4 linked regions of the Homo sapiens genome follow. The protein of the gene in region 1 interacts with the protein of each later gene in a biochemical or structural test. Each region holds a gene or a part of one and is shown in the gene's direction. Other genes may lie near its edges.

What was found.
Region 2: the proteins of SP1 (region 1) and POU2F1 form a complex in vitro, tested with the Homo sapiens proteins (3 studies listed by BioGRID and IntAct).
Region 3: the proteins of SP1 (region 1) and ATF7IP form a complex in vitro, tested with the Homo sapiens proteins (3 studies listed by BioGRID).
Region 4: the proteins of SP1 (region 1) and NFYA form a complex in vitro, tested with the Homo sapiens proteins (2 studies listed by BioGRID).

Annotation. Positions count from the first base shown.
Region 1 is NC_000012.12:53,382,951-53,390,960, forward strand, and holds part of SP1 (transcription factor Sp1), read left to right. Parts: coding exon 1-672; intron 673-8,010. UniProt on the Homo sapiens protein: Transcription factor that can activate or repress transcription in response to physiological and pathological stimuli.
Region 2 is NC_000001.11:167,411,876-167,419,885, forward strand, and holds part of POU2F1 (POU domain, class 2, transcription factor 1), read left to right. Parts: intron 1-83; coding exon 84-429; intron 430-1,150; coding exon 1,151-1,239; intron 1,240-1,986; coding exon of another isoform or gene 1,987-2,003; exon of another isoform or gene 2,004-3,624; coding exon 3,625-3,935; 3' UTR 3,936-8,010. UniProt on the Homo sapiens protein: Transcription factor that binds to the octamer motif (5'-ATTTGCAT-3') and activates the promoters of the genes for some small nuclear RNAs (snRNA) and of genes such as those for histone H2B and immunoglobulins.
Region 3 is NC_000012.12:14,424,654-14,432,663, forward strand, and holds part of ATF7IP (activating transcription factor 7-interacting protein 1), read left to right. Parts: coding exon 1-820; intron 821-8,010. UniProt on the Homo sapiens protein: Recruiter that couples transcriptional factors to general transcription apparatus and thereby modulates transcription regulation and chromatin formation. Can both act as an activator or a repressor depending on the context.
Region 4 is NC_000006.12:41,096,276-41,103,215, forward strand, and holds the end of NFYA (nuclear transcription factor Y subunit alpha), read left to right. Parts: intron 1-1,081; coding exon 1,082-1,135; 3' UTR 1,136-6,128; downstream 6,129-6,940. UniProt on the Homo sapiens protein: Component of the sequence-specific heterotrimeric transcription factor (NF-Y) which specifically recognizes a 5'-CCAAT-3' box motif found in the promoters of its target genes.

The DNA of each region.
Region 1 (8,010 bases):
ACATGGGAATTATGAACTTTACTACCAGTGGATCATCAGGGACCAACTCTCAAGGCCAGACACCCCAGAGGGTCAGTGGGCTACAGGGGTCTGATGCTCTGAACATCCAGCAAAACCAGACATCTGGAGGCTCATTGCAAGCAGGCCAGCAAAAAGAAGGAGAGCAAAACCAGCAGACACAGCAGCAACAAATTCTTATCCAGCCTCAGCTAGTTCAAGGGGGACAGGCCCTCCAGGCCCTCCAAGCAGCACCATTGTCAGGGCAGACCTTTACAACTCAAGCCATCTCCCAGGAAACCCTCCAGAACCTCCAGCTTCAGGCTGTTCCAAACTCTGGTCCCATCATCATCCGGACACCAACAGTGGGGCCCAATGGACAGGTCAGTTGGCAGACTCTACAGCTGCAGAACCTCCAAGTTCAGAACCCACAAGCCCAAACAATCACCTTAGCCCCAATGCAGGGTGTTTCCTTGGGGCAGACCAGCAGCAGCAACACCACTCTCACACCCATTGCCTCAGCTGCTTCCATTCCTGCTGGCACAGTCACTGTGAATGCTGCTCAACTCTCCTCCATGCCAGGCCTCCAGACCATTAACCTCAGTGCATTGGGTACTTCAGGAATCCAGGTGCACCCAATTCAAGGCCTGCCGTTGGCTATAGCAAATGCCCCAGGTAAGATTTCCAATCTTGTGCATTTATTGGGAACCAACTCTAGCATCGTAGCTGAAACTTGAGTCTAAAGAAAGGAATAGAGCCTTTTGAGATAACACTTTCTTGAGGGTTAGTCATTTAGGCAAATAAATTTGAGAAATAGAGATTCTGTTTAAGTAATTTGGAACTGAAGTAAAGGAAACTTCTCCAGTTAGTTTGAGGAAGGAGCACTTCTGGGCAATATTCTGGAGTCTGTAATACTCAGTGTTTTTGGTGCTGCAGAATAATGGTTGACAAGCTTTCTGTAAAGGGCCAGATAGTAACGTAAATATTTTAGACATTGTGGGCCTCATGTGGTCACATTTTCTTTTCTTTTTTTTTTTTTTGAGACAGAGTCTTGCTCTGTCATCCAGGCTGGAGTGCAGTGGCGCGATCTCGGCTCACTGCAAGCTCCGCCTCCCAGGTTCACGCCATTCTCCTGCCTCAGCCTCCCGAGTGGCTGGGACTACAGGTGCCTGCCACCACGCCCGGGTAATTTTTTGTATTTTTAGTAGAGACGGGGTTTCACCATGTGAGCTAGGATGGTCTCGATCTCCTGACCTCGTGATCCGCCCGCCTCGGCCTCCCAAAGTGCTGGGATTACAGGCGTGAGCCACCGCGCCCGGCTTTCTTTTCTTTTTTTTCTTTTTTCTTTTTTTTTTGAGATGGAGTCTTACTCTGTTACCCAGGCTGGAGTGCAGTGGCGTGATCTCGGCTCACTGCAACCTCTGCCTCCCGGGTTCAAGCGATTCTCTTGCCTGGGCTTCTTGAGTAGCTGGGATTGCAGGCGAGCACCACCACGCCCAGCTAATCTTTGTATTTTTAGTAGAGACAAGGTTTTGCTATGTTGGCCAGGCTGGTCTCGAACTCCTGACCTCATGTGAATCCACCTGCCTCGGCCTCCCAAAGTGCTGGGATTATAGGTGTGAGCCACTGCACCCAGCCACATTTTCTGTTTTGTATGTTTTTTTTCCACACCCCTTTAAAAATGTAAAACCATTCTTAGCTCTAAGGCCTTCTTTGGCCTGTAGGCCAACTCCTCCATAGGATAAAAATTGATTATGGGCCGGGTGTGGTGGCTCACGCCTGTAATGCAGGCACTGAGAAGACGAGGCAGGTGGATGGGTTGAGTTCAGGAGTTCAAGACCGGCTGGGGCAACATGGCGAAACCCTGTCTTCGACAAAAATACAAAAATTGGCCGGGTGTGGTGGTACATGCCTATGGGCCCAGCTACTCGGGAGGCTAAGGCATGAGAATTGCTTGAATCTGGGAGGCAGAGGTTGCAGTGAGCCAAGATTGCACCACTGCACTCCAGCCTGGGCAACAGAGTGAGACTCTGAAAAAAAAAAAAAATACAAAAATTAGTCGGGTGGCTGGGCACGGTGGCTCACGCCTGTAATCCCAGCACTTTGGGAGGCTGAGGTGGGTGGGTCACCTGAGGTCAGGAGTTCAAGACCAGCGTGGCCAGCATGGCGAAACCCCTTCTCTACTAAAAATAAAAAAATTAGCCAGGCATGGTGATGCGCGCCTGTAGTCCCAGCTACTCAGGAGGCTGAGGCCAAGAATTGCTTGAACCTGGGAGGCAGAGGCTGCAGTGAGCCGAGATCACATCACTGCACTCCAGCCTGGTTGACAGAGCAAGACCCTGTCTCAAAAAATAAAAATAAAAGGCGGCCGGGCGCGGTGGCTCACGCCTGTAATTCCAGCACTTTGGGAGGCCGAGGCGGGTGGATCACAAGGTCAAGAGATCGAGACCATCCTGGCTAACACTGTGAAACCCTGTCTCTACTAAAAATACAAAAAATTAGCTGGGCATGGTGGCGCGCACCTGTAGTCCCAGCGACTCAGGAGCCTGAGGCAGGAGAATCACTTGAACCAGGGAGGCGGAGGTTGCAATGAGCCGAGATCGCGCCACTGCACTCCAGCCTGGGTGACAGAGCGAGACTCCGTCTCAAAAAAAAAAAAAATAAATAAAAATAAATTTGATTATGGGCTGGGCGCGGTGGCTCACGCCTATAATCCCAGCACTTTGGGAGGCCGAGGTGAACAGATCATGAGGTCAGGAGTTCAAGACCAGCCTGACCAATATGGTGAAACCCCGTCTCTACTAAAAATACAAAAATTAGCCGGGCGTGGTGGTACAAGCCTGTAGTCCCAGCTACTTGGGAGGCTGAGGCAGGAGAATCGCTTGAACCTGGGAGGCAGAGCTTGGAGCGAGCCAAGATCGTGCCACTGCACTCCAGCCTGGGTGACAGAGTGAGACTCCGTCTCAAAAAAAAAAAAAAAATTGATTATGAATTTTACCTGTTTGTAGAACACAGATTAAATCATCAGATATTTCTTGTGAACTGTAACTCCTAATTGAAGGGAAAATGATCTAACGGGTTGCTTTTCAACGAAGTAAGTTCCCTGGTTAGTATTAACCAGAATATCCCACACTCTGAGTGTGCTGGTTAATCAGGATTGAATTTTTTTTTAACTCCTAGTTATCTGAAAAACAAAATCCCATAGCTTCCCTTCACACTAACATATGAGCATCCTAGGTGATTCTGATACTTCTAGGTAGCAGTCTAACTTCCTAGACTGCTTTGAAAGTACTGTGTGTGGTTAGGAAGGGAGAAGGAAAGGGAGTGGGGTAAGTTGGGGTCTGGAATGGAGTGGGGGATGTAGGATTGAGAAGAGTTAGGAATGAGGAGAGCATTGAAGGGAAAAACAGTCTGGGAAGAATATTGAATCTGTTGACCATAATGTTCAGGGTCTTTCATTTTGAACTAAATGTTTCACTATTAATTTGAAATTTAAAACAGTAAACAGATGTAAGTCTATGTAGACTGTATCTTTTTTTTTTTTTTTTTTTCATTTTTGAGACTGAGTCTTGCTCTGTTGCCCAGGCTGTAGTGAGTGGAGTGGTGCAATCTCCGCTCACTGCAACCTCCCCTTCCTGAGTTCCAGTGATTCTCCTGCCTCAGCCTCCCAGGTAGCTGGGATTACAGGCGTGTGCCACCATGCCCGCCTAATTGTTTGTTTAATGGAGACGGGGTTTCACTGTGTTGACCAGGCTGGTCTCGAACTCCTGACCTCAAGTGATCTGCCTGCCTTGGCCTCCCAAACTGCTGGGATTACAGGTGTGAGCCACTATGCCCGGCCTGACTTTATCATTTTAAATTCCATTGTATGGAGCTAATCTTTAATAAAGCACAATAAAAGGATACACATACATCTTTATATGCTGGCACAATTATACAAATACGGAAAATAGTTTAATATCACCAAATAATATCACCCAACTTCTAGGTTTGTTTTTTTTTTTTTTTTCGTTTTCTTTTTTGGGACTGACTCTAGCTTGTCTCCCAGGCTGGAGTGCAGTGGTGCGATCTTGGCTCACTGCAACCTCTGCCTTCCGGGTTCAAGCAATTCTTCTGCCTCAGCCTCCCGAGTAGCTGGGATTACAGGCACGTCCCACCATGCCCATTAATTTTTTGTATTTTTTTAGTAGCGATTGGATTTCACTGTGCTGGTCAGGCTGGTCTCGAACTCCTGACCTCGTGATCCGCCCGCCTTGGCCTCCCAAAGTGCTGGGATTACAGGCGTGAGCCACTGCGCCTGGCCACTTCTAGTTCTTTTGGCATATATATGTGGGTTTATAAATTGTTTACTTTTGTTACCAAGTTCTCATTCCATTTAACTGATTCTTACATAAGTGAGGGTAGCAAATAGGCAACCATATTTCCTGCCTCCTGCAGTTTTGGTAAATCTAGGGGGAAAGTCTGCTTAAGTTCCCTGATTTCTTACATTCCTGTGGTGTGTTTAGAAATACTACATGTTGAGCTTTAACAAGACAGTAATTTTCTTAGTTAATTGAAATCTTAGAATTGAAAGTTAGAGCTGGAAGGGACTGAAGTTATTTAGTACAACTGCCTTATTTTCTAGATGAGGAAATTGAGGTACAGAGAATCACTTAATGAGACAACAGCCAGAGCTGAGGCTAGTTTTACTAGTCTAGGGTGCAACCTGTTTTAACTAGGGACTTGAACAATTCTTTAGATTGTTAAAAATGTATTCGAGCCAGCCTGGTGGCTCACGCCTGTAATCCCAGCACTTTGGGAGACTGAGACAGGCGGATCATGAGGTCAGGAGATCAAGACCATCCTGGCTAACATGGTGAAACCGCATCTCTACTAAAAATACAAAAAAATTAGCTGGGCGTGGTGGTGGGTGCCTGTAATCTCAGCTACTAGGGAGGCTGAGGCAGGAGAATGATGTGAACCTGGGAGGCAGAGCGTGCAGTGAGCTGAGATTGTGCCACTGCACTCCAGCCTGGGTGACAGAGCGAGACTCCGTCTCAAAAAAAAAAAATGTATTCGAAAAGGTGTTTTTGATTTAAGATTTAATGCTCTAAAACTGACAGATGTTTATAAAACATTTATAAAAATGTTTTATAAACTAAACATTTATGGGAATAGAAATGGGAAAAGTTTTATAAAAACTGACCTCTACAACGTAGAAAATTAGACACTTCTGGGCAACCTACACCATCATGTTTATTTTCTATTTGCTCTTAGATTGAAGTGCCCGGTTTTGCTCTTCTTCAGAGCAAACTGTGGGATTATTCCTGTTAATAATTTGGATCCTTGCAATTTCTAAAAGGCTTATAACTTAGGGTTTAGAGAACAGTTATGAGGCATTCTCATTGCTAAATCATGCTCTGGGGAAGTCTGCCATTTAATATGTCATAGACTAGGGCTACCTAGTTGTTACTGATGGTGTTTGAGCTGAAGAAAATGCGTGTGTGTTTCTGTAAGGTAAGAGGAGCTTGACATTCACTAAGGAGATAATGAGGCATTGACAGGCTGTTTTGTAAGAGTTGAGATTGTTTGCTTCATTAATAGGGGTTTTTGAAGATCCAAGTTTTCTCCTTTCTGGCTAGTAATAATTGTGTAGTATTTCCCCTTTAATTGATATGACTTCATCCTTAAAGAAAGATAATAAAATCACTTCCTAGAGGCTTACTCCTTTTTCAGCTTTTGCCTTCCTGCTGGCAAAAGTATCTTGTTTTGGCCAGGCGTAGTGGCTCATGCCTGTAATCCCAGCACTTTGGGAGGCCAAGGCAGGCAGATCTCTTGAGCTCAGGAGTTCAAGACCAGCCTGGGCAACATAGGGATCCCCCATCTCTACAAAAAATATGAAAATTACCTGAGCATGGTAGCACACGCCTATAGTCCCAGCTACTTGGGAGGCTGAGGTGGGAGGATTGCCTGAGCCCGGGAGGTTGAGGACGCAGTGAGCCATGATCACGCCACAGCACTCCAGCCTGGGCAGTAGGGTGAGTCCCTGTCAAAAAAAAAAAGTATCTAATTTTACCCCCTTCTCTGATAGTTATTTTACTGTAAAATTTAACCTTTTTGCAGTATGTTCAACTTCTTGGTACGATGTAGAAAGAACATTGGATGTGAAATGTTGTATGATACATGTATATATCACTGTACAAAATGAGATATATTACATGATTGTGGAAGATTGCAGCTTCCATGGTGTTCACTTAGTCTGTTTACATTCATTATTTTTTAAAATGATCTTTTTTTTTTTTTTTTTTTTGGGAGACGGAGTTTCATTCTTGTTGCCCAGGGTGGAGTCCAATGGTGTGGTCTCGGCTCACTGCAACCTTTGCCTCCTGGGTTCAAGCAATTCTCCTGCCTCAGCCTCCCGAGTAATGCCCACCACCACGCCTGGCTAATTTTTGTATTTTTAATCGAGATTGAGTTTCACCATGTTGGCCAGGCTGGTCTTGAACTCCTGACCTCAGGTGATCTGCCTGCCTCGGCCTCCCAAAGTGCTGGGATTATAGGCATGAGCCACTGTGCCCAGCCGCTAATTTTTGCATTTTTAGTAGAGACTGGGTTTCACCATGTTGGCCAGGATGGTCTCGATCTCCTGGCCTCCCAAAATGCTGGGATTACAGGCGTGATGTTTCTTTTTTTTTAAATTGACACCCCTCCCTCTTTTATCAACAGCTTTTCCTTTCATTTTGTAGTCATATTTTCCCAGATCTTTATTTTATTTTATTTTACTTTTCATTTAAAGCCTCAGATGTTTTTCTTAGCCGCTGCTGAATCCTGAAACTCTTGCCGCAGGTTGACGGGGAGTTGGCTTTTAAAGATTTAAGTTTGGATGACTTCTTGTGAGTTCTGTCTAATAAAGAGTGCAGGGCTGGGCTTTGGCAGGAGAATAGAACATATTTCCTTGATGGGTATAATTCATTCACAAACCAAATTTCAGGTACTAAAAATAACAATTTCACATCTGCTGGGTTTTATTGGGGTCAGGAAAATGTCTTCTCTTAGAAGTTAAGTTGAATGTGATACCAGGGTTGGTTTGCCAAGGGTGTCACTAAACTTGGAGTCAGATTGCTGAGAGCTAATTTGTTAAAAAGTTGTGTTTTAGAGCAGTACATTTGGACATTAATGAAAAGTAGGTTTAGATGATTTAAATGTCTTACCAGTTATCATTTTTGTGCAAAAGGTCATATGAAAGAATTTTCTATTTTAAGATTATATTTTATCAAATATAATGTTGAATGTTTCTGCGTCTTTTGTCTTTCCCTAGTATTATACTTGTTTCTCTTTTTAATTTAAAAAATTTATTTTCTAGAGATATCAGCACAGAAAGATATACTTGTTTCTTAGGGTGTTTGGTGCTTTTTAAATGGTTATTTCAGTTTAAGTAGGAAAGATCTCATTTAAAATCTAAGTGCTTTGAGGGGGCTGGGTGCAGTGGCTCATGCCTGTAATCCCAGCACTTTGGGAGGCCAAGGCGGGTGGACTGCCTGAGCTCAGGAGTTCGTGACCAGCCTGGACAACATGGTGAAACCCCGTCTCTACTAAAATACAAAAAATCAGCCGGGCATGGCGGCGCGCACCTGTAGTCCCAGCTAGTCAGGAGGATGAGGCAGGAGAATTGCTTGAACCCTGGAGGCAGAGGTTGCAGTGAGCCGGGATCGCACCACTGCACTCCAGCCTGGGCAACAGAGCTAGATTCCGTCTCAAAAAAAAAAAATCTAAGTGCTTTGATTTGAAAATCAGTGGGATATGAGAAGACAGTCTTCAGACCTTTTCCATTGCTCCTATTTATTCATTCCAGTGGCTTTCTCTTTATAAATGACGTCATTGTTAAATCACGTTGCCTTGTGTAATGGGGCCATTTTAGTTCTTAATTAAATAACAAGAGTGCCTTCTGTTTCAGAAACGTTTAGTATCTGTTCTATCTCCCTTTCCCTTTGTTTCATTTTGTAAAGTAGCATGTAAACGTGCAACTAATAATTC
Region 2 (8,010 bases), on another chromosome or scaffold:
ATTATAGAGTTTGGCTGAGTAAAGCCACCATTCTTCCAAAACCATTTACAAAAGGTCATCTTCTAATCTGTTTGTCTTTTCAGGCACTTCAGACACCACCTCCAACAACACAGCAACCGTGATTTCCACAGCGCCTCCAGCTTCCTCAGCAGTCACGTCCCCCTCTCTGAGTCCCTCCCCTTCTGCCTCAGCCTCCACCTCCGAGGCATCCAGTGCCAGTGAGACCAGCACAACACAGACCACCTCCACTCCTTTGTCCTCCCCTCTTGGGACCAGCCAGGTGATGGTGACAGCATCAGGTTTGCAAACAGCAGCAGCTGCTGCCCTTCAAGGAGCTGCACAGTTGCCAGCAAATGCCAGTCTTGCTGCCATGGCAGCTGCTGCAGGACTAAACCCAAGCCTGATGGCACCCTCACAGTTTGCGGCTGGGTAAGGCGCTTTCTCATCTCATTCACGTCTGAGGTGGAGGTCATCCCTGGAATTACTCACAGGGGAGACTTTACATCACTGACTTAGATGGGGAAAAAAATGTCTTTAAAGCAGTAATCTCTTTGAAGTGGGCTGTTTTGTGATCATACAAGGACTTTGATTATAGTTGAGTTTATGTTTCTTAACACCCTGGGAAGGGCAGTAGTCATACCTTTGTTTCCAGATGAAGACCCAAAATACCAGGTCACTAATTACCTTAGTGACGGGGCCAGGAAGAAAGCCTAGAATTCTTGACTCTTATTTTCCCCATTAAACTCTCTCAACTGCCTACTTCCTAATTCTCAAGCATAGATAAGAGATGTAATAGGAGTCTCAATTTTATACTGTTATTGTCACACATTATAAGAATTATCTTGTAAATATATCTTTTTCTCTAGAATGTTTCTTTCATTTTGGAAAGAAAGAGAAATAAGTCTTTCAAAGAAGGGTCAAAATGACTATAAAAGTTTTACATTTTGTGCTGATCATAACCTCGTTTGTATGAGTAAGCATCCAGGAAAGCAGTAACTGAGAAGCACAAACCATAGAAGAGTAAAGAAAAATAAATATTTCCACCTATTTCCCCAGCTGGATTTTCGTTTTGTAAGTTCCTTTTGGTGTGTTGTCAAAATGAGACCTGCGTCTGCATGGTAATAAAGTGACTCCTCTTTTGGACTTGCAGAGGTGCCTTACTCAGTCTGAATCCAGGGACCCTGAGCGGTGCTCTCAGCCCAGCTCTAATGAGCAACAGTACACTGGCAACTATTCAAGGTCAGTAGAAGCCTTTTTCTTAATTTGGTGGCATGCACGTGTGTGTGAGTGTGTGTGTGTGTGTGTGTGTGTGTGCTTGAGACAGAGATAGAGGAAGTCTGCTTTGCTAGAGGTAAAAGTGATGGGAAAGAGTCAAATGCTGACTAACTTGTTCTTGAGAACTAAGAAAATGTCCTCGTAAAAAAGCTTTGTAAGAAAAGTATAGGTGTTAGTATGTGAGTAAAAGCAGGAAATATACTTAGTTTGGTATATGGTAAAAAACCAGAACTTTCATGCTAATATTGATCTTATGTGAGTAGACTTGAAGCCAGATTTTTTTCCCCTGATAAGTTTATCCCAAGTATTAATCTAAAACCCGTCTCTAGGCAAACTTGACCAAGTAAGACTCTCCAGTTCCCAGCTGCACTCCTGAGAAAGCTGTGCATGGGAAAGTCCTGTAATGAACAAACATTGGAACACATCAGGTGGACCTCAGGAGTGCTTTTAATTCTCATTAAGTTCTGCTCTTTTTATATCGCCGTTAGTGTAGAACATATATTCTCTTGGATTATAATGTCTCTTTTCCAAGCTCAGCTGGGTTCCTTTTGCCTTTTAGCATGTTACCCAGGGCAATATTCATTCCATATACTGAAGGGTTCCACTTGTTTAGTACCTAAGCTTTCTGTCTAAAAATGTTTACTGTTATGTGATTCAGGGAGACAATTTGAGAGACATCACTAATTAATTAGAATTTTTTTCTTAAAATAGTTTTGCTAAGAGGCTGAGGCAGGAGGATCACTTGAGGCCATGAGTTCAAGACTGCAGTGTGCTATGATCATGCCTGTGAATAACCATTGCACCCCAGCGTGGGTAACACAGTAAGACCCTGTTTCTAAAAAAAAAAAAAAAAAATTAAAGTGTTTTGTGCATAAATGAGAATTCTCAGGGCCAAAAATAACTATTAGCCAACCTAAATTAAGATTAATATTTCACAGGTAATATCTCTAACAGTGTACTAGAGAATGTTAATTACAGACAAAACCAAACCATGGCCTAGATTACCTTACATTATATTGACTTTCTGATTGACTAAATCATACCTGAATTGGTTAGCTCTAAAGCTTTTGTTATATAATAATTTTTTTTTGCAATAGAATTTGTGATAAATCACTTTTTCTTCTGCTTTATTGAATGTTTCTGTGCTGTGTTGATACTACAAAGGCAAAATGTCTTCCCTAGGGCATGATTGACACTCTGAAAAGATACTAAGTTTGGAATCTCAGAAAAACTTCAAGCTGCACTGTCTCACTGTTCTGTACTATTTGTATGAGCAAGGCCAAAGTCAGAGGCATTCCCTTCAGCTATATTTTATGTAAGAAATCAAATGTGTAATGCCGTTAGAAAATCCCTCAAATCTACATGTAGGAGTGAGGTTATATGGCTAGAGAGATTTAGGAATGTTGCCAGACAACAGGTTGAGATACTAAATGAGAGTCTCGATTATTTTAAATAAAATGTTGATGATGCCTTCTTTGGGGAAGCAACAGCATCATAGAAAATTTCTCACCCATTAAAGCACATCCTAGACTTAGATCACCCACCTACATCATTATGTCTAATTTCCTGCTACAATAGATTCATCATTCTCCTTTGCACAAGTCATAGAAATCAAGTATTTAGCCTCAGGAAGTGAGAAATTAATTATACCTTTTAACTTTATTTGGTGATACATAATTTATTTTAGAACTAAAGCCTTTTTGCAAGATGATTTTCATCTTGTATATCATAATATAAAGCAGTGGTCCCCAACCTTTTTGGCACCAGGGACTGGTTTTCTGGAAGACAGTTTTTCCATAGCCACATTGTGGTGGCGTGGTTTCTGGATGACACTGTTTCCACCTCAGATCGTGCTCTATGAGAATCTAATGCCGCCACTGATCTAACAGGAGGCAGGCCTCAGGCTGTAATGCCCACCACTCACCTCCTGTTGTTAATGCTTTAATCACTTCAGCTAGTTTGTCCTTTGAACAGAGGTAGTTTAAAATCAGCAGTCTTCATTAAAGACAAAATTATTGGATTTATCAAATATGTCTAGGTAAATGAAATAAACTGGTGATTTCAAGACACGAACATGACTCTAATTCATTAGACAGTTATTAGCTGTCTTCTACCCCTGCTTGTGCCCATTAAATTAGACATTTCAGTCTTTTAGGCTCTTCAAAATTAAAAATAAACTACAATTGGTATCAATATAGCACTGTGTTTGAGGAAAAAAATTCAGTGAAGGGCTATACTTTTTCCTGGTGGGTTGTAGGAAAATGATAGACTTTTGATGTGTTATTTGGCTTCTCCAGGATGATGTTAATGTTTTCATTCCTGCCTGTTTTGGGGGGTTTTTGTCTGTAGCTCTTGCTTCTGGTGGCTCTCTTCCAATAACATCACTTGATGCAACTGGGAACCTGGTATTTGCCAATGCGGGAGGAGCCCCCAACATCGTGACTGCCCCTCTGTTCCTGAACCCTCAGAACCTCTCTCTGCTCACCAGCAACCCTGTTAGCTTGGTCTCTGCCGCCGCAGCATCTGCAGGGAACTCTGCACCTGTAGCCAGCCTTCACGCCACCTCCACCTCTGCTGAGTCCATCCAGAACTCTCTCTTCACAGTGGCCTCTGCCAGCGGGGCTGCGTCCACCACCACCACCGCCTCCAAGGCACAGTGAGCTGGGCAGAGCTGGGCTGCCAGAAGCCTTTTTCACTCTGCAGTGTGATTGGACTGCCAGCCAGGTTAATAAACTGAAAAATGTGATTGGCTTCCTCTCGCCGTGTTGTGAGGGCAAAGGAGAGAAGGGAGAAAAAAAAAAAAAAACCACACACACCCATACACACATACCAGAAAAAGAAAGAAAGGATGGAGACGGAACATTTGCCTAATTTTGTAATAAAACACTGTCTTTTCAGGATTGCTTCATGGATTGGAGAACTTTCTAACCAAAAATTAAAAAAAAAAAAAAAAAAAGAAACAAAAAAATCAAAAACAAACAAAAATAAGTGAAAGGACTACTTATCATTTCCAGCAGTCATGATGACAAGTTAAGGTGGGTTACCAATTCCAATATAGGAAGGGGATTTCTTGTTTGTCTAAATTTCTTTTTTTCTTAAAAAAAAAAAATCATTTTTATGGGTCTGTTGTACAGGCCATTAAGTCATAACAAGGTGTTTATAATCGTATCAATTGTGTTGGGGGTTCCTTTCTTAACTGGTACAATTTAGGCAGGCCTGTATTACTGTATTATTATTGTTGTTGTTGTTATTGTTTTATATATATAGTTTGGACATGTTTATTATCTCTTGCTCCTGGATCCTATTTCAGTGAGCTCCCACACTGTGGGGAGGGAGGGTTTTGGGGTAAGGGGAGACTTCTGTTCTTAACTGTGGGGAATGTTCTTGCTGGTTTCCTTATCCTTGATGACTCTTACAGAGGTGCTAGAAAATTATTTTCTTTTGCCACTTATGCAAGAGGCTTGGTGCAGAAGCTGAAGGCAGTGTGTGCAAACACTCCCATTCCACACACGCCCCTTCCCCTCCCCACATCAGGTGGTGCCTTTGGAGCACTTTTGTGTAGGAAGGAATTCCTGCTGAACTGTAGCTCTCACTCACCCCCAAATCATTGAATGACCCTGAGGCCCAGTTCCTGTGGTGCAACAGTGCTGCTTTCTGCTACTTTCAATGGGAACAGCTGTACATGTTGCAGGGCAGGATTTGGTTCCCAAGAGCAAAGACTACTGCAGACACCTGACTTGGTGGTTCTCCTGATTTCTTATCTCCTGAAAAATGCTCCTGCTGTTGGTGTGTTTGTTTGTTTGTTCCATTTTGTGGAAGTTTTTCATCCAAACTTTAACTAACTTGGCAAAGAAAAAAAACTGACTTACTGAAATTGGGAAACTTTTCCCTTCTTTTATTTTCTAAAGGAATTCTACTAGACTATTTTCCATTGATAATATATACAAAAGAGGTGTGATGAGAAGGGTATAAGGTTACCACCTTTTCCTCTAGAGAGCCACAGACTTCCTTTCCACTGGATGGTTTATAAATTCCTCTAACCCTGAGATTCTTCTTGGTTCTCTGACTAAAGGAGGCACTTATTAGCCGGGCTGGGATCTGTAGAACCTTTGAAGAAGGACTTTGAGCAGGAACTTTGCACACACCTTAAGTGTCTCCTTGGTTTGTTCATGATGCTCCTGCTAGGTAGGTCTAAATGGCAATACACATCTCTTTATTCAATGTAGAAAGTAATTAGCTCTGTAATTATTTTCAGGGTGTTTGTAGACTATATAAATGAGCCCATTGAAAAGGAAGAGTTTGTGAAAGTGGATGAAGAGGAATAAGGGTAACTTGGAGATTAAATTCCTTTTTTTGTCAGTGTACTGTTGTTATGCCATCTGTACCAAAAAATTTTCCAAAAGACTGGATCACTGCAGTGCAGCTCATCTAAGTTCCCCTTCTTATTGGAGTTAAAGGTTCCCATTTGGTGGCTGTGGGTGCTTGCTTAAATCTCTGGTGGTCCCAAGACTGCACTTTTTCTCCCTTTCGAGCTGGGGATGTAGAGAGAACTTACAGGTGATTTTTATTCTGATTGCTTTTGTTTGTGTCCACAAGGGAGCTTGGATTCTGTGTACTTGTCTCTTTCCCATTGTCCAGTAAGGCAGTAAATACAGACACAATGTGTACTTTTGTGTGTGATTCAAGTGGGAGACAGTCTGTTAAAAGGTCAGAAACATTTTAGTCCCCTTTAAAATATTTCTTTTAGTTTATTTCTATCGTGTTTTATTTCACAGATATTTAATTACCACCCCTAAATTTCCTCCTCTTACCCTTCACCTTCCCTAAAATCCTTCCAAAATCAGTGAACTGCAAGCAGGGAAACTAACAAATGTCCATTCACCCTTTTTGTGTGGTGTGTTTTTTTATGTTTTGTTTTGTTTTTTAACTAAGCTTGAACCAAAGTCAATTTTTAGCAAGCTGCTGTACTAATGGACTAGTTGATAACGTGCAGTTCAGACACATCGAGGAGATAGATGCTACTGACAATTTCTTTTTCATTTGTCTTTATTAATTTTATATGAAAGTTGCTGCTTGTTTTTAATCTTTTATGTTGGTAAATTGTGATATCCTCTGGGCAGACATTAACTTGATGTTTAACTAGTTTATTAGGTTGGTGTGTAAATAGAATGACAATGTCAATTACTAATTTCTCTCCTCTCCATTCACTTTTTCTCTGTTGTAGTTAAATTTAATCTTCTATCCTGACTTGACATCTCTACCTTTAGTCTGTGGAAATGATTTTAGGGCTATCAGTAATGCTGTAGCTGCCCATAATAATGAGTCCCTCCCTTGGGAGTGGTGAAACTTAGAAGGAAGGATTCAGGGAGGGAAATGCTGGTACCCAGTATACTGGATTAGAAGTTATAGCATTAATTTCTCAAAATTGCTACCAAAGGAAGTGTGGAGTCCCAAGGGACTCAAGCTCAGTGAGGTAAGACAAAGGGCAAGGAAAGGCTGTTTGGGTGGTTTTTTTTTCCCCACATATGGTTTAGAAAATGATCCCTTTCCCAAACAAAACTCACCAACAGACTTTAATATTAGAAAAGATACTAAGCTTTAAATGTCAATACAGTGGTCTTTTATTCCCTGCCCTGTCTATATTTTCTACTCAATTTGGGATAAGGGGATTTTATGTGAAGCACTTGATGAGGGTAGACCAGCATAAAAAATCTGTTTAAAAGAAGAAATAATCTTTAGGAAAAGATAAATCTTTAGATAAAAATAAATTTTTTTCTCTTTTTTTACTTATTTAAAAATAAGTTGTGAAATGAAAGGTACATTTACACATGTACACACGAAACACTAATATAGCTTTTTGGTGGTTGTTTAGTTTAAAATCAACTCCCTATCCATCATCCCTAGATATTCTACTTATCGTATTGCTTCATGAACACCTTAGTCATTTTTTACTTTACGTATATATTTTTTTATCATCTCAAGAAATGCATTTTGAATTGAATGAACTATCTTCTAAGCTAAGATACTCAAATTTAACTTTTAGCCACCTTATATGGGAGAGCCTGGAAACTAAAGGGGACCAGGGACCATTTGACCAAAAGAGGTGTTTGGTGGAGTTTCTGCATTTCAAAGAAGAAAGGCCAGATAGGTCATCACAATTCATTGTATTATTCTTTTTTTTTCCCCTTAATGTTTATGCAAATTTTATTTTATATTTCTGAATTTGGTTAGCACATACTAAGCCAAAGACTATTCTAAATGCATTTATAGTGAATACTATGTATGCCCATGGTAATGGGTCCTCCCTAAGGAGTGGTGAATGTAATTGTGTGAATCCTGCTTATCACAAGTGGTGCAATTTGGTCATAAACTTTATTTATACCCTGTATACATCTGAATAACAGAGCAGAAAGACCTAAAAAAGGGCTTCTCACAGGAACAATATTACTATGTTGTTCTAAGAAAAAATAAGTTGAGTGCTGTATTAGTTTAAGTGTTTCTAAAGTTCTATAGGCAGCATTTTAGAATTAAGAATTGTGTATATCCATTAACTGATATAATTCACATGTCCTTTTATTTGTTATCAGAAAGATCAATACTATCCCAATTTATTCAACTTGTTACCCAAGAAATGGAACCAAAGGAATCCAACTTTCATTTTGTGTAGAATCATACCTACTTATACTTAATGCTAGCACTGTAAGAAATAAGTCTTTTTTGTTTAAAAAAGGGAAG
Region 3 (8,010 bases), about 39 Mb from region 1:
ACTGATCCAGCCTCTGATGATCTGGCCTCTGGTGATCTATCCTCTAGTGAACTGGCCTCTGATGATCTGGCCACTGGTGAACTGGCCTCTGATGAGCTGACTTCTGAATCAACCTTTGATCGTACCTTTGAACCAAAGTCTGTACCAGTTTGTGAACCAGTTCCTGAAATTGACAATATAGAACCAAGTAGCAATAAAGATGATGATTTTCTTGAAAAAAATGGAGCTGATGAAAAATTAGAGCAAATTCAGAGTAAAGACTCATTGGATGAGAAAAATAAAGCTGATAATAATATTGATGCTAATGAAGAAACTCTAGAAACAGATGATACAACTATTTGTTCAGATCGACCTCCTGAAAATGAAAAGAAGGTAGAGGAAGATATTATCACAGAGCTTGCTCTTGGAGAAGATGCTATATCTAGCAGTATGGAAATTGACCAAGGTGAAAAGAATGAAGATGAAACTTCTGCAGATCTTGTAGAAACGATTAATGAAAATGTTATTGAAGATAACAAAAGTGAGAATATCTTAGAAAATACAGACTCTATGGAGACAGATGAAATCATTCCTATTTTGGAAAAGCTTGCACCTTCTGAGGATGAACTTACTTGCTTTTCTAAAACATCTCTCCTTCCAATCGATGAGACAAATCCAGATTTGGAAGAGAAAATGGAAAGTTCTTTTGGTTCACCATCTAAACAAGAAAGTAGTGAGAGTTTGCCAAAAGAAGCCTTTCTGGTCCTCTCTGATGAAGAGGATATTTCGGGTGAAAAAGATGAGTCTGAAGTTATATCGCAAAATGAAACGTGCTCTCCAGGTTAGCATATAACTTAAATGTTAAAGATTTTTTATTGACTTTGATGAACTGTTTAATAAAACATTATCATAATGTTTTAAATTTATTTTAGCTGCAGAGAAAGTTGAGAATGGTGATGACTCTATAGAAAGATGTCTTAACTTCATAGAATTCAGAATTAGTGTGTGTACTCTGTGAGTAGCATTGTACTAAATACTAAGAAGGGAGATAAAATAAGTAGAAAATATGCCCTTATAGTCTGGAAATAGAGATGAAGTAGAGCACCATAACACTGAGATAACAGTTTAAGTTAGTACATAATTGACTAGAGTTGTAGCAGTTCTTTCTTGCTATCACTTAGCGAACAAATAACTTAGAACTAAAAGCCTAATAGTTTAATCTATTTGCTTCAAGTGTAACAAATTATATTTTCAATTAATATTCCCAATGAAATCCTGTTCTTTAATATTCTTTGTCCAGGAATGACAGCACCATTGTTGTAAGCCAGAAACCTTAAAGCTTGATTATCCATTTGATAAAGACTTTACCCATTTGCTCCCTCAGCCCTTTTGATTCTACCCAACCTATTCTCTTCCTCATTTTCTGAATGAGCTCCCTGTAACCCAATTCTCTTATTTGATATTGTCCGTCTATGTCTTAGATCTCTGTTACTTTTAGGTTGATTTCAAACTCCTTATGTAAAAGGTACATTAACTTTATGATTTGTTCAGTACCTATCTCTCCCATCTCTTTTATTTTATTTATTATTCCTAGAGAAAAAGAATGAGAAAAATTCTACCTTCTTTTATGGTCAAACTGAAAAACATTATTCCTCTATGAAACTTTCTAAGCCTGTGGAAGACTGAGAAAAGCATGAATACCTTTCTTTTCCCATTATATCACATTCTTTTAGATTTAGACATCTCTGAGAGAAGTGACCTTGCTAGCATAAAACACCATCTAATTTCTTCAAAGAAAAAAAAATGGAGGCAGGTCTAAGAGACAGAGACAACTTTTTTCCCCAATATATCATACCAGCTTTTGGAGGTAGAGATTTTTTTCTTATTAAAAAATGGCTTTTTTTTTTTTTTTGGCCAGGTAAGGTGGCTCACACCTATAATCCTAGGACTTTGGGAGGCTGAGGCAGGCAGATTGCTTGAGCTCAGGAGTTCGAGACCAGCCTGGGCAACATGGTGAGACCCCGTCTCTACAAAAGTACAAAAATTAGCCAGGCGTGGTGGCACTTGTCTGTAGTCCAGGGTACTTGAGGGCCTGAGGTAGGGGGATCACTTGAACCTGGGTGGTCGAGGCTGCAGTGAGCCGAGATCGCGCCACTACTCCAGCCTGGGTGACAAAGTAAGACCCTGCCTCAAAAAAAAAAAAAAAAAAAAAAAAAAAGGATGGCTTTTTATTTTCAAAGAGCATTCAACTAAACCTATATAAAGAGACAGGCCAGGCCCTTCTTGGTTCTAGAGATTTGAAGATAGTATTTGCCCTCAGGATACACACAAGAATTAAATCATAGGCCATTAAATACAAGACTGTGAGTACAGTGATAATGTTAAATTGGCATTCTGGGAGTGCAGATTAAGGTAACTTTATTAGAGCACCAGATGTATTAGGGATGTCTTGCCCCTTTTAATATCTGTATAACAGAGGTTTTTTTTGTTTGCTTGTTTTTGTTTTGTGAGACAGAGTCTTGCTCTGTTGCCCAGGCTGGAGTACAGTGGCACAATCATAGCTCACTGCAGCTTCCACTTTACTGGCTTAGGTGATCCTCCCACCTAAGCCCCCAGAGTACCTGGGAATACAGACATGTGCCACCACACTTGGCAAAATTTTAATTTTTTTGTAGAGACAGGGTCTTGCTATATTGGCTCTGCTGTAACATAGGGTTTTAATGAGTCTAATTCTTTTTTTTTTTTTCCGAGATGGAGTCTCGCTCTGTTGCCCCGGCTGGAGTGCAGTGGCACGATCTTGGCTCACTGCAACCTCCGCCTCCCGGGTTCAAGTGATTCTCCTCCCCACTCCGCCTCCTGCGTAGCTGGGATTATAGGTGCGCGACACCACGCCTGGCTAATTTTTGTATTTTTAGTAGAGTCGGGGTTTCATCATGTTGGTCAGGCTGGTCTCAAACTCCTGACCTCGTGATCCTCCTGCCTCAGCCTCCCAAAGTGCTGGGATTACAAGCGTGAGCCACCGCGTCTGGCCAAGTCTAATTCCTTTTAATGGCAGCTCCATCCTACTTGCTGAGGCCAGAAACTTTGGAACCATTTTTATTTTTTCTTTCACACCCCATAATTAGTCCATCAGGAAATTCTGTTGGTACTACTATCATAATAGATCTAGAGTCCAATTCACAACTGTTATTACTCCTGCTGCGAGTCACCATCATCAGGCCAAAACGGTGCCTGGCACACAGTAAGTGCCCAGTAAATATTTGTAAAGTGAATGAATAATCAATAATGTAAGAGAAGCATATCATGGAGGACCTTGGTTATAATGCTAAAGCTTTATGATGGCGCTGGAATGCCAATAAAGAACTTCAAGCAGAGAGGAGAATGAAATTTACATTTTGGAAAGGTAATAGGTGACAGTGTTGAGAATGAATTTCATCCATTTCCTATAAGTGTCTATACAGAGTGTGGCACTAGGCCAAGTCCATAAAAAAGCCTTATAAGTCCTTTAAAAAAAAAAAGTCTGTATAAGAAAGTTAAAAAAGCAAATTGCAGCTTATGATTTAATGAGTACCTTTATGTCAGAATCTTGATATTGGAGGGCATCCCACACAAGGCAGTTAAGTGCTGAGAGATGAATATTAAGCCATCCATGTTGCATACTTTGAAAATTCAAAGTTGGGAATATTTTTGGTTACTTGCCTTTAATCTGATGGTATGCTATTAGCAGGGTAAATTTAGTGATAGATTTAATTTCTTGGCTCATAACTAAACTTTTATTTTGTATCTTTTCCCCTTCCTCTGAAGGTAATTTTGTGTATTTTGAGTTTAAGAATAGTTTCTTAATTGGTTCTTAAACTGTACTCTGTTCTCTTTATATGGCGACAGAATCTGTTGCATGTCATTTATGTTGCTGTACTCCTGTTGAAATGTTACTTAAATAAATGCCTTTATTCTTGACTAATTTTTAATATACTCAGAACACAGAATTATTAGCTGAAGTACTAAAGTTGGCTTCAGTACTGGCTCTTCCTTCTAGCTACTAACATCTATGAGTGTAGTAAAAGGAAAATAGCATAACCTTCTGTCATTTCAGGCACTTGTTGAGCAAATATGTTTTAAATAAAGCAATTGTGATGTGTATCAGCAGCAACAAGAAATAATGAAAGATAAAGCAAATAGAAAAGCTATTTTAATTTTACAAAAGTAGAAGAAAGAACTAAAAAAGTGTTGCATATATACCTTAATAGGTCTAGAGACATTACTGAATTGTGACATAGTATTATGTTATAACTAATACTCACTAATTATTAAAATGATAATCTGTTTAAAGAGGATAGCAAAATAAAGATTTATCTCTCTGGGAAAGTTCAAACACTAGAGGAGCTTCATCGCCATACCATATACTTTCCTCTAACTACTATTTCATCTCTTTCCTTTCTTTTAGTGCCATTCTTCAAGTTATATTAACAAAGCTAGGACCATTTCTTCTTCTGTTAGGCCTTCCACTTAATTGGATTTTGATTTCTGCCTTGGTAGCTGCCGCCCTCCTAATTTTTCTCAGTGAAATGACATTGATGATCATGTTATTAAATCCGGGGACATCTTTTCTTTGTCTTATCTATTCTTCCATACTTGGATGACCTCTTAATAACAGTTCTTCCCTCTTGAGACTCCCCTTAGCTGTTGGGTTACTGCATTCTCCATCTTCCCTTCTTTTTTGGCCTTTCTCATTCTATTTCTTGTGGAAAAATAGGGATAGGCCTCCTCCACGTGCTTTTTTTTCTTAAACATAAGATTTTTGAAGAGAAAAATCTGTTTTAGAGTGAACTAGATTTTTTTTGCATTAAACACTGACATAGTTTCCTTGCAGATTTTATTTCAGATTAAAATAAAAATCTGTGGTTGATATTTTCCTCCCCTTGTTCATTGGATCTTTAAGGTAAATAAAATAAACATAAACTGATGCTAATGAGGATAATTACATTAGACTAGAATTTGAGACTTCCTTCTATTTTTGCTGTAGGTTAGTATTGATAGAATTGGCATGATTTAGTCAATTTACTGTTAATTTGTTGTCACTGTTTATTGTGTTCAGTTAAAATTCTTTATCATCTCAATCCATTTATATTTAGCTGTTACTTATGTACTTGGCTTCTCTTTGTGGAGCTTCTTAGTTCTATTCACTAGTGTGCAAGTTGCAGATTTTTCTTTTCAGAGTTGAGGAAGACCAAAGATGAAGTAGATTTTGGAAGGAGGTGTATAGGAGGAAGATCATTTTTCAAATGAGTACTGTTGTCCAAGTTAGATGTGTAAGTCTGGATTTCAGATCAGAGACTTGACTTGTATTAGAAAAATATAGTAGGTAGCATGTAGCTATTAGGTGACAAGATGAAATCACCTCAGAGTAAGTATACATGGAGAAAAGATCCAAGAATTGTGCTTTTGGCATTTCAGTGTTTAGGGTTGGGGAGATAAGGAAGAACCAACAAAGGAGCTGAGAAAGAGCAGCCCCTGAGGTAGGAAGAAAATGGAGAGATTTTGGTGTTTCAGAGATTTTGGTGTTTCAGAAGCCAAGTAAAAACACTGTTTTGAGGAGGGAATAAGGTAACCGTTTACTATATCAAATGCTGCTGTGTGTGCTCATAAGATGGAAGAGAAGTATTTAACAATCTGGAGATCATTGGTGACTTTTACCAAGGGGCAGTTTTGGTGAATGGTGGAGTGGAAAACCTGATTTGGGTTTCAGAGAGAATGGGAGGGGAAGAATTGGAGATAATACAATGGGACTTTCCCCGCTAGGTTTTGCTTTTAAAGAGAGCACAAAAATTCACATAGGAGATATTATTTGCCATTCTGTATTGGTTAAATAAAACTAATACAAAATGTCTGGAAAAGTCACATTACCAGTCATGCCTTATTTTTCTGATAGATCTTGTTAGGTTGAGAATCTTTATATGTTTATTGGCCTTTTATAGTTCCTTATCTGTGAATTGCCTGTTCATCTCCTTTGCCCATTTTTCTAATGGATATTGTCTTTAATTTGTCTGTAGGAATTTCTTGTTTTGTTACAAATATTTTCATGGAGCCAGTAATCTAAATCAGTGAATGGGGTAGACTGGCCTGTGAGCCCTGTTTTTGTAAATAAAGTTTTATTTACATAAACATAGCTATGGTAATTTGTTTACATGTCACATAGCACTTATTGCACTTATTTGTTTACATGTCACATAGCACTTATTGCTGATTCCTGCAACAAGGACAGAATTAAGAGGTTGTGTCAGACAGAGGTCATGTGGCCCACAAGATTGAAAATATCTATTTTTTGGCCGCTTACAAAAAAGATTTGCCAATCTCTTATCTAAGGCAATGGTTTTTGTCCTCCATTTTTCCTTAGAATAAAGTTCTATAAAGTATAATTCTGAAATGGGAAACTAAGTCCCCTAATGTAAATTCTATTTTGTAATCCTTTAAAAACACAGTTTTCTACCTTTACTTAATGGAACCTTATTAAAGATAGTAGTCATCTGATAGTATTAAACATGTAATTTGTCTCAGCTATTTCTCAAAGTGTTTGGGATTACCAAAATTATGAGATCTGGTATCTGCCCTTAATGAGCTTACTGTCTAGTCTGCTTGAAAGGAAAGAATATGGAACTATGAAAACTTGCCAAATTGTGATAAGGCTATAGCCTTATCCTCAAGAAAATCAAAGGAATTATAACAGAAACTTATCTGTAAGTAAGGACAGATTCTAAAAAAAACATTCTTTTTTTTTTTTTTGAGATGGCGTCTCGCTCTGTCACCCAGGCTGGAGTGCAGTGGTGCGATATCGGCTCACTGCAAGCTCCGCCTCCCGGGTTCAAGCGACTCTCCTGTCTCAGCCTCCCGAGTAGCTGGGACTACAGGCATGTACCACTACATACAGCTAATTTTTTATATTTTTAGTAGAGACAGGGTTTCACCATGTTAGCCAGGATGGTCTCGATCTCCTGACCTTGTGATCCGCCCGCCTCGGCCTCCCAAAGTGCTGGGATTATAGGTGTGAGCCACCACACCCGGCAGTAAAAAAGACATTGTTAACCTACTATTTGGATGAGTTTCAGGAGTCCCAGGAACTACCTGAAATTATGTCTAAAGTTGTCTGTGTACCAAGGGCCTTTGATTATTACTCTGGGTTGAAGGAGACCCATTCTTAGTTTTTCTTCAGGCTTTGTGGACAAAATAAAATTAAAGAAATATAAGGCCCTACCCGTCTCTGTAGAATTTGTTAATACCATTTTTTAAATCCCAAGTTCTTTCCGTTACAAAAAACTCTAGCAACTCTATTTTAATTCTGTGAATTCTGAGTGTTTTAAGTGTTGGGGATCCAGTAATATCTTCTAAGCATATCTGGAAACTGGGAGTTGGGTGATAGGAGGAGGTTTTTGAATAAAATGAAGAAATCTCAAGCTGAGCTTGACATATGGAGAGGAAACTAACATGCGTATAAAAGAGGCAAACCATAGCAGGCCAGTTTATTCTGCTGTGTTCTGGATGCTCTGGCTTGGAGTCACTCTAATTGGAGCCATGGCTAATTTTGTGCTTTGTGCGATGTGAGGATTTGCTAAATAAAGACTATGTAAACCTTTCATCTCAAGCATCCCAGTTACTCTGTCTCTCTGGAAACTCTGGGGACTAGGAAGCTCAGGAGTTACTAACAATGAGTATTAAAATCAGAAAGATATGGAAAAATATAGAAAGAAAAATGTATTTTAATGAGTTTGTGATCTGTTTACAAGAAAGCAAACAAATTTTTATTTCACTGAAACTGAGGTTGAGAGATGAGGTCTTAAAACACTTAAAATGAGCAAAGGGTAGTAAATGGAGAGTTAATTTTCAAATAATTTATTTTAAAGTTCAAAAATAGTTTTAGTAATTCTGTGTACTGTGTTAGCTTATTGTTTATCTTACAGTGAAAAAAATACTTCTAGCGCCTTAATAGGTATTCATCAATGATCCTTGTCCTTGCCTATTTTCACCTAAAATATCTTT
Region 4 (6,940 bases), on another chromosome or scaffold:
TATTAATCCTCACCTGTAGTGTGAGAGCCCCTCCTTTCTCATTGCTATTCATTCATAACGGTGTATGAATGTGGGCCTGACAGCTATTGTGGCAGGAGGGCATTGTGCCAGGAACTCTCCTCATTCTGTGTGCTAACAATATGATCTTGGTCAATTCAGCCTCTTTTATTTTTATCTGTAAAGTGGAATACTGTTGATACTTCACAGCAATGTTGTAGGGATTTCATTCAGTAATCCACATTAGGCATCTGTGTAGCACCATACCTAGTGCATGGTGAGTTCAGTAAATGCTAGTTGTTTTTGCTCATTGTTCAAGACCCAGTTCCAGTCTTCCATCTCCAGAAGGCTTTCAGCTTTTTCTCAGATCCTGCCTACCAAGGCTTCAGAGCCTTGGTATGGGGGAACTAAAGGTGGTTCTTGCGGAGTGTTGCAAAAAGCTTCCAAGGATTTATCCTTGTGTTAACACGGTAGGTCTTAAGTGAGAAACAGCATATAGAGTTTAGTGGAAAGAAGATGAAATGGGAGTCAGGAGATTTGGGAGTTAGCCCTTGCTGGACTCCTAACTTTCTGACCCTGACCCTAGTCCACGCAAATCACTTTACCCATCTGGCCTTCAGATTTATCTGTAAAACGAGTACATTAAAGTGTATAGATTCTAATGATTCTTTCTAGCCCTGCTAAGTACTCAGTATTTAAATGATGATCAAAAAACAGTGACAAAAATACAGCATGACATGGTTTCTCTGGGTCTTTTCCTTAGACACCTGAATCTGAATACTCTTAACCCTTAAGTATAGAGAACAACACAAGGTTCTTAGGAAAGAGATACACTAACAGCCCTGCAGTGTTTCACCATGGAGTGCAGGCCAGACTTTAAATTATTTTAAGAATAAGGTTTATTGTCTCTTCTTTCCTAATGGGGCTACACTTTAAGCCATGTATGCAGACTTAAGATGTATTACAAGCCTTTGATTTACTTGGTAAAGTTATGTGTATTCTCTTGGGGGGATAAGTAGTGAGAGCCATGAGTTCCTGTTGCTTTTGCAAAGGACTTTAATCATCATGTCATCTTTGTCTCTAGGATCCAAACCAAGCCGATGAAGAAGCAATGACACAGATCATCCGAGTGTCCTAACCCCACGCCATGTGATGGAGCTGATCAAGGTCATGTTTCTCACTGTTCCAGGAAATTGATCAACTCTTCCAATGGGACATTGATGATCACATTCTGCCCTTTACTACAGGACAGAAACCACTTAGTTTTTAATAAGTGGCTCAGTATTACAATTGCAGCGATGCCTGGCAAATTGAAGTTGCAAGCCTTTGTCTTACTCTTTCAGTCAGGACCTATTTCAGACTGTTGATGACATTGACATTTCATGGATTCGGATGATGCAAGGAGACACATGCCACCCCAGCAGTACACAAAGCACTTACCTTGACTGGTGAAGTCAGCCAGCCATCTCAGCAGGGAAGAACAACCTTCTCAACCAAAACTGCAATCAGGAAAGCAGCAGCCCACTCCTTCCCATGGAATCTAGACAGCATTTATCCCTCTGGTGGGGGAATCTCACACTGACTAACTGAATGGACGCTTTGTATTCAGAGATGGCTTCCAGGCAAGGAAGTTCTATCTTGTGATACGGAAACAATAAATTCCTGAGATACATTCTTCCAATCTGTGGTAATAATAAGAATTCCTCTCTGCCCAGATGGTAGGTTGATATTTCTGGACTCTAGCCAAGAAAAAGCTAATTCTGGGGATAGAATGATAAAAGACTCAAGCACTAAAAATATACATTGCCGAATCTCTTTTTCTAGCTTTGAAAAGTTGTGGCCTGCTTGTCCCTCTGTTGACTGGTCATCTGGACCATCGTACTTGCTGTGGCTACTTCTAAGACAATGTAGAGGGTTATTAAACCTTGAAACTGCCTTTCCTAAGTAGAGAACAAGACTATTCAACAACTTCTTTGCTGAAGCACTGAGGAGATTTGTAATACTCCTAAAGGAAGGGCCAAACTAGAGATTTTCAATCATAGACTTTGTGACAGCATTTGGGGAACTAAAAGATTCATGTGTTTCAGCCTAGTGGGAGAGAGTGGGGGAGAGGAAGAGAGAGAGAGAGCATGTATACCCGTATGTTATCATAGAGCACGATTCTCCAGTGGATGGATACCTGGAATGGATCATTAAGATGAAGAGAGTAATTCACATTTACTCTAGAACCTTTAACAAGCACTGAAAGGAAGAAGCCTGAGATTTGATCCTTGACAATTTCTGGAAAGCACTGGTCAGTCACACTGTCCTGGACAGAGTCCAAGTTACCCACTAAAGCTTGAGGTGGATGTTGGCTTCACTCCTGCAGCACAATGCTGGCCCTAGAAAGCGAGCATTTTCATTCTTCCCATGGCAGCTGATTCTTTGGTGCCAGTTTTCATGTTTTCTCCATAGGCCTTGTGCAGAAAGGTTTTCTCATTGCATCCATACTGTGAGAATAAACTGCAGACTGAAAGAAACATGCCTGCAGGGTCAGGAACTGGGCCACTGTTCCCAGAACGGGTTGTGCCTCAGAAATCTATTTCTCTTTTAGATGTTGAACCCTGAGAGAACTAAGATGATATTTCAGAAGAGTTGGCTGCCTTCTCTGGAAACAAGGAAAACCCAATAATTCCGAGGAACATTGGGGGTTAAATACCAAGAATAAAAATTGGTTCTTCTTTGACTTCAGCTTAACTGTATTAAGACAGAAATTAAGCCCTCTAAAAACACCACAAAGAGAGATGATTGTAATGATAGAAATAGAGGTACAGAGCTATGCAAAGGAAACAGGAAGTGAAATATTCCTAGTCCCAGGGATCTGGTAATCGCTCCTGGCTTCCAGATGTCAAAGGACTGATCCTTTGGTAAGCTCACTAGAAACTTCTAGCTCTACAAGAGTTTGGGATATTAATGTTATTCAGTAAGTCCCAAGTTTTTCAGAGAATAGATTACTAACAATGAGGAATTTATATTCCTTGGTTAATTTAGGAGTCTAAGATGCAGAGTTCAGAAAGAAATTACTCAGACCTAACTTTGAGTGCTTAAGCTGCCAACAGTTAGAAGATGCTATTTATTTGTGTCTGTAAGTTTGTACATAGTAATGCCAGCCTTGTTGCTGAATTTTTTATTTGGGGGGAGATGACTTTGAATTTTGTTTGAAATGCTTCAGTTGTCATTTTGTCATTGCATTTCAAATAGCTCATGACCCTTTTCTTGTGGTCACTTTGGCACACCATAGTAGCCCACAAAGTGGGGGCAGGGTATTGACATTTGGATTTTTTCTTTGATACTAGTTCTTTTATTCATTTTTATTTGTGACTGTAGTGATAACTTTACAGATGGAGAAAGAGTGAATGGATGAATGAATAATTGGTTTAATGCCTAGTTATGCAACTTGAGTGCTTTTTTTTTTTTTTGCAGGATAATTTTAAGTGTATATATTTTAACTGCACTGGTACATTGAACATGTCAGTGTCGATGCCACTGGACCAACAGAGCATTTTGTGGCTATAGGGTGCCTGATAATAATGTCTTGATTTTTCTTTGGGATTCAACTATATCGAAGGTTTTTCCCCCAGCAGTATGGGGGCGTACAGGTGATCGATCATTAATGTCATTGCAATTGTTATTTTTTAAAATAAATTTATAAAAATAACCGAAAAGTAATGTGACTTTTGAGGAATCTGCAACTCCTGGGTTCTAGTTTGTGTTTCCAGTGTTGAAATTTTGATCTCCCCCGACAAGACTTGTCTGCATGGACGGTGTCTCTGTAAACAGTATCAAACTTGTAATGTCTGAGCCTCTTAGCTTTATCTCCCCTTAATTTCTTCCCTTTTGGCCCTTCCACCCTGTTGAGGAGATTTTTTCTGTCACCTGCAGGCTGATCATACATTTGATGCTACTACTGAAAGTGTTTATCAAAATGTGATGAAGTAATTCCATGAGGAAAATTAGCCGTTATCACAAAAACAGCCTTAAGTATTGTAGAATTTCAGGTAGTGAAGATGTACTATTTACGTTTTGTTAGATTTTGTTTTGGCAGAAGACCAAAACAAAAGTACTTTTCTGATTGTTAAAAATCCACAGCATGCTCACCTTGTTACTGTTTTACCTTACGGTCGCTGGGAATCTAAGCAACAAAGACTAGAAGCCTCCGATATGCCATTATCAACACACAAGAGACAAACAGCCCGAGGAAGCACTCAATGATGAGAGCAGTAGACCTGCCCTGGCAGATGAGAGAGGAGAAACTCTCCACAATGAAGGAAAAGCACTGACAGTATTTGATAGCTTTAGTCAAACTGTGCTTGAGTTTGGCTTAGATTTATGCCAGTGGAACCTGTCCTTACCAAATTCAGAGATGACCCAAGATTCTACTCTGTGGTATGAGGGAAAGACCTCTCGATATTTATCTCACACCAACGGCTTTATCGTAGGAGCGTCTTCGCCTCCCCCGTTTCCAGTAGAAAAGACAGCTTTGCTCCTTTGAAAGCGCAGACCGCCGCACCTCCAGCCCCTTCTCCCCGGGGAAGTAGGCCCCGCTAAGAATGTGGGAAGGTGGTGGGGCGGCGACTGAAGTCGCTTCCGATTGGCGTTGTCCCAAGGAAGCCTGCGCGGATTGATCGGCGGCAGGCCTCCAATAGAGCCTGCTAGGCGGATTGGCTGCTACGCGGCTGGGCCCTGTTTCCGGTACCTAGGCGGGCAGCCATGGTGACCGGCGAGCGGCATGCGACGCCGCCTCTGTGGCCTGTGGAGGCCCGCTTGGCGGCGCTGCTTCCCGACCTACTGGTCTTTCGGAAGCCTCGGGGATGGGAACCCGAGCTCGCCACGGCCCAGGGCGTCCTCCTAGGCGTCCATGTGACGGGTGAGGGCGACGGCCGGCACTTGCACTTAAGTCTCCTGGCCTGCGGGAGAGGCGGCCGTTGGGTCTAAGCCCCTGGAGGCCTCGACGGTTACAGGCCTAGCCTCCCGCGAGCTAAGGCACAGTTTAACTTCGTGCTGCGGCTTCCTTAGGAAACTTTGAGTATCTTCGTTTTAGCGTGGGAGGACATCTTTTGGGATGAACCGGCTCAGTCCTTGAGCTCACCCCAAAGATGATGAAATTGAAACTCAGAGGAAAGGATTTTTACAGGACCACGCCCCGGGCTTTGAACCCGTTTTTCCCAACCCCGAGCATTTTCTATTAAGCGTTCTGTTTCAATTATTTTATTCGTTCAGTTAATTCGTTCTTGGCGTCATAAGTATATGCCCGCCGTTGTTCTGGCCGTAGCTATCTAGCAGCCACTCCGCGAGTCGTTCATTTAACAAATACTTACTCTGTGTCAGGGATATGAAGATGGGTAATACCAGGTGCCTGTCCTCACTGTGTGAGTGGTTCTCTAGCCAGACATGAGGAGGGATCCTATTGTTTCCCATAGCTAGGCAGCCTAAGAGAGTAGGGGAAAGAGCTGGCTCCAGATGAAAAGGGCACCATCTCCAGCTCTTGGAAGCAGAGAGGGTGGTCCTTTGGATTCCCAGTGGCAGCAGCAACCAACCTGGCCCTTAGTAGTTTCTAAGTTACACCATGTTAATGGATAAAGGAATTACTCAGCTTGAAGGGATCTGTTTCCTTTACACTGGCCTGATGTGTGGGGAGAAAGGGGCCAAAAAGTTTAGGATTTGGAGTTAACATCGTAATTTCTGCTTTGTTGGTCAGGGTTTACAGCATTAATGGACAGGTTCACCCTGACCTACAAGTCGGAACGTGACATGGACAAACTGGCCCATATCTTCAGTTATTACATTAGTGACATCGTGGAGCGTGAGTGATCATTGTAGGGTAACAAGGTGTGGTGCTGGGCTCCTGGGGGTTTATAAAAGAAGGGGGCCAGAAGTACTTTAAAACAGGTACCAAAGGGTCATTCCTTTAGCATCATTCATCTTTGGTTTCTTCAAGTTGCCACTGAAAAGCTAGACCTTTGCCTATTATCTGCTAATCTACCCAGTCTCACATTCTATTGACTCATTGTTCAAAGGGGGGGCAGGAGGAGCTAATTTCCTTTGCACATTTGTATTTTATTTCAAAATAAAGTATTCTCTTCTAACAATAACGTATCTCAAGTGTGTATTCAGACAAAATTTATAAAACATCTTTTTATTATTATATTTTGATCCTGTGAGGAAGGAATAGGTGTTTTCTTATTTTCTGCCATGTATTAAGCTTTTAGATATTTGCCAGATATCCAGTATCTGGAAAAAACTCATTTATGTAGTACCCATGTTTTGAGTACCTACCCTGTGACATGGACTGTAATAGGTGCAGGCAGGGCAAGAACCCACTCTTGAACTTTTTAGTTAGGCCTACCCAACAGAAATTACTCTGACCTTATACCTTTTAGTACTTACGTAACATTCTCATCCTTTACTGACAGTGCCCTGTATGCTTCCGTCCATCATTCTGAGATTCACCAGAATAATTACTTTGAGGCATCTCCGTTAAGAATTTGATTATTTGACTTACCTCTTATCCTTAAGGAACACATGGAAGGTCGTTTGCTTTTTCTTATAGGTTTGGATGAAGGGGAAGATAAACATTCTATATCGTGTATGTACTCTAATACCAGCAACTTCTGGGTACTAGAACTACAGGGGAAAGTAAGACAGAGTACCCTCGTGGAGTTTCCATTTTAGTGGGACAGACAATAAACACAATAATTGTAGCTTATATATTCTATCAAGGAAATAAACATAGTATAGTGGTAAAAAAAAAACACAAAAAATAATTTTAGGGTAGGGGAGTATATGAGACAGGGTGGTCATAGGCTCCTCTGAGGAGGTATTATTTAAGCTGACACTTGAAGGATGAGGGGAACAGCTTGTGAAGAACTAGGGGTAAAGCATTTCAGACAGAATACCAAGTGCA